2 separate regions of the Homo sapiens genome follow, and region 2 is linked to region 1. The links come from fine-mapping of genetic effects on gene expression. A gene starts in region 1. The other region holds a variant in brackets. All regions are shown on one strand. Distances are between the middles of the regions.

Region 1 (2,922 bases):
ATAATAAATTCAAGAAATATATAGGTAGTCATGGAAATACAATTTTTTAACCTGCCTTAGAATGGATAAAACGTAGAAATACCAATTTTCTATTCTAAATAAGGATAACAGCATATTCAACTTGGTACATCATGTTACTAAGCTTTTCTTAGTTAACTCTTTAGATGTTAAAATTAGCATTTTTAAGAAGTTCAAATAAGTAGCACTTCACTTTCCAAATTAAAATGGATCTAGTACACTAATCAACATTTAGGGAAAAATTCAAAGTAAAACAGCTTACTTTTAAGACATTTTGCTTATCTTAAAACATAATCCGGGCTTTCCTGGGAGCAGGAAAGAACTGACTAGAATATTTAAAACAACTTCTTCCACTCAATAAAAAGGTTCCAAATATAAACAATTCACATATATTGATCAGATCCTGTCTTATCATAATGACAACCTGCAAATTAGTATCATCTATCCCTATTTAGGAGGTGAGAGTGTCTCAGATCGGTTAAGTAACTGGCTCATAATGATCAGTGCTTGTGGGAAAGCTGGAATATCCACGGAGTTCTTTCGAACTCTAGCGGTCCAAGCTCTTTCCCAAGTCACGTAGCTTCTCTATTCGGAGAGAAGTCGGAGTACTGGGATAGACCCAGGAGGTCAGAGCGGAAACTCTGCCCGGGTGCGTGGAACCGGAGTCCCCGGTGCGCGGCGCCAGGTACTCACCTGTATGGCTGAGCGCCAGGACCGCGCACAGCAGCAGGGCGCGGGCGAGCATCGCAGCGGCGGGCAGGGCGCGGCGCGGGGGTAGGCTTTGCTGTCTGAGGGCGTCTGGCTGTGGAGCTGAAGGAGGCGCTGCTGAGGAGTTCCTGGACGTGCTCCTGACGCTCACTGCAAGTCGTATGACAATTGGTCGCTAACCGAGAGAACCTTCCTTTTTATAAGACTGAAAACCAAGCCCATGTGACGAAATGACTGTTTCTTTCCGCCTTTTCGTACCCCCCACAAATTTTTCCCTCCTCTCCCCTTAAAAAAATTGCGTAAGCCCGGTGGGGGCAGGGTTTTTTACCCACGGAAATGAGAAAATCGGAAACCCAGGAAGCTGCCCCAATTTGGGAGCAGAGGGGGTAGTCCCCACTCTCCTGTCTGATCCCTCCCTCTCCTCCCCGAGTTCCACCGCCCCAGGCGCACAGGTTTCCGCCAGATGTCTTTTCTTCTTCGCAGTCTTTGCCCGAGCGCTTCCGAGAGCCAGTTCTGGACTGATCGCCTTGGATGGGATACCGGGGGAGGGCAGAAGGACACTTGGCTTCCTCTCCAGGAATCTGAGCGGCCCTGAGGTCCGGGGGCGCAGGGAATCCCCTCTCCCGCCGCCGCCGCCGTGTCTGGTCTGTACGTCTTTAGAGGGTCGAGGAAGTCACGTCGGGACAGACTGGGGCGAGTAAGGTTAAGAAAGGCTGACATGTTTTATGTTTTAGTGACGACGCTTAATAGGCTGTATATCTGCTCTATATGCAGCACATACATACATAGCTTTTTAAAAAACTCTTATTTTGTGGAATGAAATAGCTACCTTCAGTGTACATAGCTGTAATTTATCTTTGTAGCTAAGTTGCTTTCAACAGAAGAAATACTGTTCTCCGTACCTTCACCCCCTCCTTGTTTCTTGGAAAGAGAGGCGGGAAAGGTAAATTCTCCTCATAATACTGGTCCTAAGCAGTTACCCTGTAAATAGTTAATGTGAGCTCCACGGGTCACCAATATAAAGTTTCCTGCCTTCTGATGGACAAAGGAAGCGGCGATGGCCAGAATTTGCAGGGACGCTAAATGTCCAAAACGTATGCCTTAAGGCATTTCTCTCCCTGATGCGTGGATTATTTTGGTTACTAGCCCTTCATAGGAGATACTGGTAAAATAAATTCGAGTTTTAAAGTTCACTCTTTTGTCTTTTCTGTCCACTTTTCCAAGATTATGAGTTGTGACCATGGATCAAAGTACAACATAGCATTTACTTTTCAGTTGCCTGGGCTTATTGGGGCTAATTTTCTATTCTCGTTTTGGAACATAGTTGGATGAGGAATTAATTAGATGGAAGGGAGATTTTGACAGTTGGAATTTCATCTTTGCTTTTGTTTAACATCTATCATGGGTAGTGCTCAGGGAGGAGCATGTGAGGGTGAGATACTAAAAAATATATATATGTATATGTGTGTGTGTATATATACATATATATATACACACACACCAGAAAAGAAGTGGAAAATAGAAAATTCAGTTATGTCCTAAGTCCTTAGCATTACAGGAAAATGACAGCATAAAACCTGAAATAAAACTACACCAGGTACCTCAATTTGTAGAAGTCTTATAAGAAAAAAATAAATAAGAGACTCACTTGGAGGTTTTTTTTTTAACTGTTTTGCTTAGTGTACACATCTGATTCTTCATGAGACACGGATGACTAAAATTCCATCTCATCTAGGAAGCCTTTCTCCTCCTCTAGTCATATTTCATCATTCCATTTATGGCACTCCTATTTATTGCATGGAATCTTACATGAAATTTCAACTAAGAGCGTGGATCATTTTCTTTTTGATAATTTAATAATTTCAATCTTCTGTTTCATTTTAAAGGAGTAGGTTGCATCTACTGAAATTTGAAGTTTATAGTTAGAGCTACTAATGTTAGTTTGGGTTAGAAGCCATGTTAGAATCCATACTGTGAGAGAGTACTAAAATTTTACATTACAATCCTGAATTCATTTTGAAGTGATCATCATCATTGTCTTCCTTATCAGACATTAATTGTTCTGTTGTCTGAAAAGAGATTTGGATACAAAAGTGAGGGAAAAACAGGGCATAAGGAATAATTATATTTAGATTATTTTAAACTCAAAGGAATTGAACTCCATCTATCCCATAGTGGAAATTCTGTCACTTATAT
Region 2 (2,922 bases), 300 kb after region 1:
CTTTGGTGGAGATGATACAGGTAAAAATCCAGTAACAGGATTCTTCTCTGCATCATCAGATTCCTTTTTTACTCCTAAGGGTTAAAAAAACTTTCACATGGTTATAAATTCTCTGAACCCATAATTTTTTTTCTCTAGCAGCTTCTTCAACATAATTTTGCTCAGTTCAGTTTATCAATAATTTTTCAAATGCCTGCTGTGGAGCTAGCCTTGTGCCAAGAATTAACATAACAATAGTGAGTTTGTTTTCAATTTCTTTGAAATTAATGAACTTCCTGAGAACAGGGTCGTGATTCATCCTAGCAAGGAGTACATTGCTGGCACACAGTAGACACCTAGTGAACACTGAATTATGGTCAGACCAACTGAATCAATGAAAACTGAAAATTTCCAAATTCATCTTTCCATCTTTCCCATAGGAACTTCTACTTGCAGAAAAGTGGGCTAAAATGAACAAGCTCCCCTTTCCAAAGATTGATCCTTATGTGTTTGATCGGGAAGGGCTGAAGGAGTGCTATGTCTTTAAACCCAAGAATCCTGATATGGAGAAAGATTGCCCAACCATCATCCACTTTGTTCTGGCCAACATCAACTTCAGAAAGTACAGGGCTCCAGGTAAGTAGGGAGTAAGCTGTATTCCATAAAATAGAAATTAAGTAGGGGACGAAACTGACATTAAACTGTTTCACTCTGTCACTGCTGTACCAGCTATTACACTATTGAATGCTTCCCTTACCTTGATAAATAGATACTATTCTGAGACCTCAAGTACTTCTCCTCTTTCTTACCCCAAGATCCCCTGACTTGCTCACAGTTCAGAAACTGCAAAGTCAACAACCAGTTTAGCAAAAATCTCTGGGACTTTACTTCAATACTTTGAATTATGTTTGTTCTGATTGATTTTTAATCAAATATTTTGACTATCACCCTTGTAAGAAAGCCCTTATTTCAGAAAAATCATGCAAATTTCTGGGAATTTTACGTGACTACAAGATTAACGTAATCTAGCAGTACACAATGGCTAGCAGTTTCAGTTTGCCATGTTGTATTTCACAGAAAACAAGAATCAAGTTTGAGGCATAGTCTTTTTTGTTTTGTTTTATTTTTTTAACCATATCCAGAGGGGTCTCTCGACTCTTGTGTATCCTGGAAAATGTTGATTAACCAAAGGAGATCTAAAGATTTACATGCAGGGTGCTTAAGGCTCCAAAAACCATATTTTAGGACCAGAAAATGTGTTTTCCATTTTATAAATGGAAAGACACAAAAAATAGGGAGGATGAGTAATGGGAATATGCTGAGAAAAATGGTGTTTTTCTAGATTTCTCAGGAAGACAAAGAAAGAATTGATAGGAGTGAAGATTATTGTGAAGCATATAGTTCAGCATAGGAGAAGGTGGAAATCTGACATTTTTAGTTATCA[G/C]ACACTAGAGCACATGAAACCCAGTGAATTTTCTATCACTGTGAATTCTCAAGGAGAGGCTCACTGAGCAGTTGGCATGTGTAGGGGATTTCCATGGCATAAAGACAGCCACATAATGTTTTAGTTTGGGTTCTCCCAGAAACTAATTCTGAGAAAAGGACTCAAGTGCAAATAGTTTATTTAGATGAGCTGGGGAACACTCTAGTTTATTAGTAAGGAAATGGGGAAGTGGTAAAGGGAAGGAAGGCAGACAACAAAGTTGCATTAGCAAGCCGGCTACCACAATGGGAACTTGATCCGCTGGGAAAGACTACAAAATGGAATAGACCTGTGTCCCACAATCATGCTTCCCACACGCACACCAAAAGGCAGGGGAATGGAGTATTTAGATTCTAACTCCCTAGAGTCTTTGGTTGACCACTGCCTGGGGAACAGTGTTATTTAACAGAATTTCCAGCCTGCTGTGAGTGGGTCAAGCAGGCTTCTACAGTTGCAGGGCAGGATAGAAAGCCCTCCGGCACACAGATGTCAGATATTGGCAGTTGGATGTCATCTGGCCAGAACACACAGACACGATAAAAGTCAGAGATGCTACAGAGTACCTGGCTCTGTGGGGACTCCCACTGCTGTCTTTATGTCTGTATGTTTTATTCCTTGGGTTTTAGAGATATTTTGTAGTTTTCAAAATAACACCCTTTGTGACTCTTCTGGTATTTAGGTGTTCCAAGGGAAACTGAGGAAGAGAAAGAAATCGCTGACTTTGATATTTTTGATGACCCAGAATCACCATTTTCAACCTTCAATTTTCAATATCCAAATCAAGCATTCAAAAGACTACATGATCTTATGCACTTCAATACTCTGAACAACATTGATGTAAGTATCTCCTATGGCCATTGACTATGTCAAATGACTTCCATACCGTATAAATACACCAATACCTCTTTTCAATTAAAAATAAAAAAATAAGTGTTATGAATGACACCACCCAAAATATGCCACTTTACTTTTCATGAAATATTTTGCTAATCTTCAGAAGAACCCTACAAAACTGACAAATAAGGAAACTCATTTTATGCTATTATTTTATTGAATGATTGGTTAATACTCAGTTTCTTTCCCGAAGTATCTATGTATTTATTATATGATATAACAAATTATAAGTAAGGAAGAAAAGTGATGAAAAGGAAATATGAGTAAAGGAAATATGAGTATGAAAGTGAATGGAACCAGAAGTGTAGTTAATCTGCAAAAATATAACATGAATTTTAATAAATACATTTATGATTTTACATATTTTCTTTTTGTGAATTTGAGAGCAGCATCACAAAACGTAACAGCATTTCCTTTTTTTTTTTTTTTTTTTTTTGAGATGGAGTCTCGCTCTGTCGCCCAGGCTGGAGTGCAGTGGCGCAATGTCGGCTCACTGCAAGCTCCGCCTCCCAGGTTCACGCCATTCTCCTGCCTCAGCCTCCCGAGTAGCTGGGACTACAGGCGCC

What was found.
Region 2: its variant is fine-mapped to the expression of PACERR in whole blood (INTERVAL, PIP 0.96).

Annotation. Positions count from the first base shown.
Region 1 is chr1:186,679,528-186,682,449 of GRCh38, forward strand. It overlaps PACERR (PTGS2 antisense NFKB1 complex-mediated expression regulator RNA), which reads left to right and starts at 1,127. Exons shown (of 1, transcript NR_125801.1): 1 at 1,127-1,919. PTGS2 (prostaglandin-endoperoxide synthase 2) reads right to left here and starts at 896. Exons shown (of 10, transcript NM_000963.4): 1 at 712-896. The coding sequence starts at 763.
Region 2 is chr1:186,977,174-186,980,095 of GRCh38, forward strand. It overlaps PLA2G4A (phospholipase A2 group IVA), which reads left to right. Exons shown (of 18, transcript NM_024420.3): 16 at 420-615; 17 at 2,142-2,299. Among named protein-coding and RNA genes, the nearest start is that of LINC01036, 110 kb to the right of the region's middle. The variant G/C (reference allele first, on the strand shown) is at 1,424.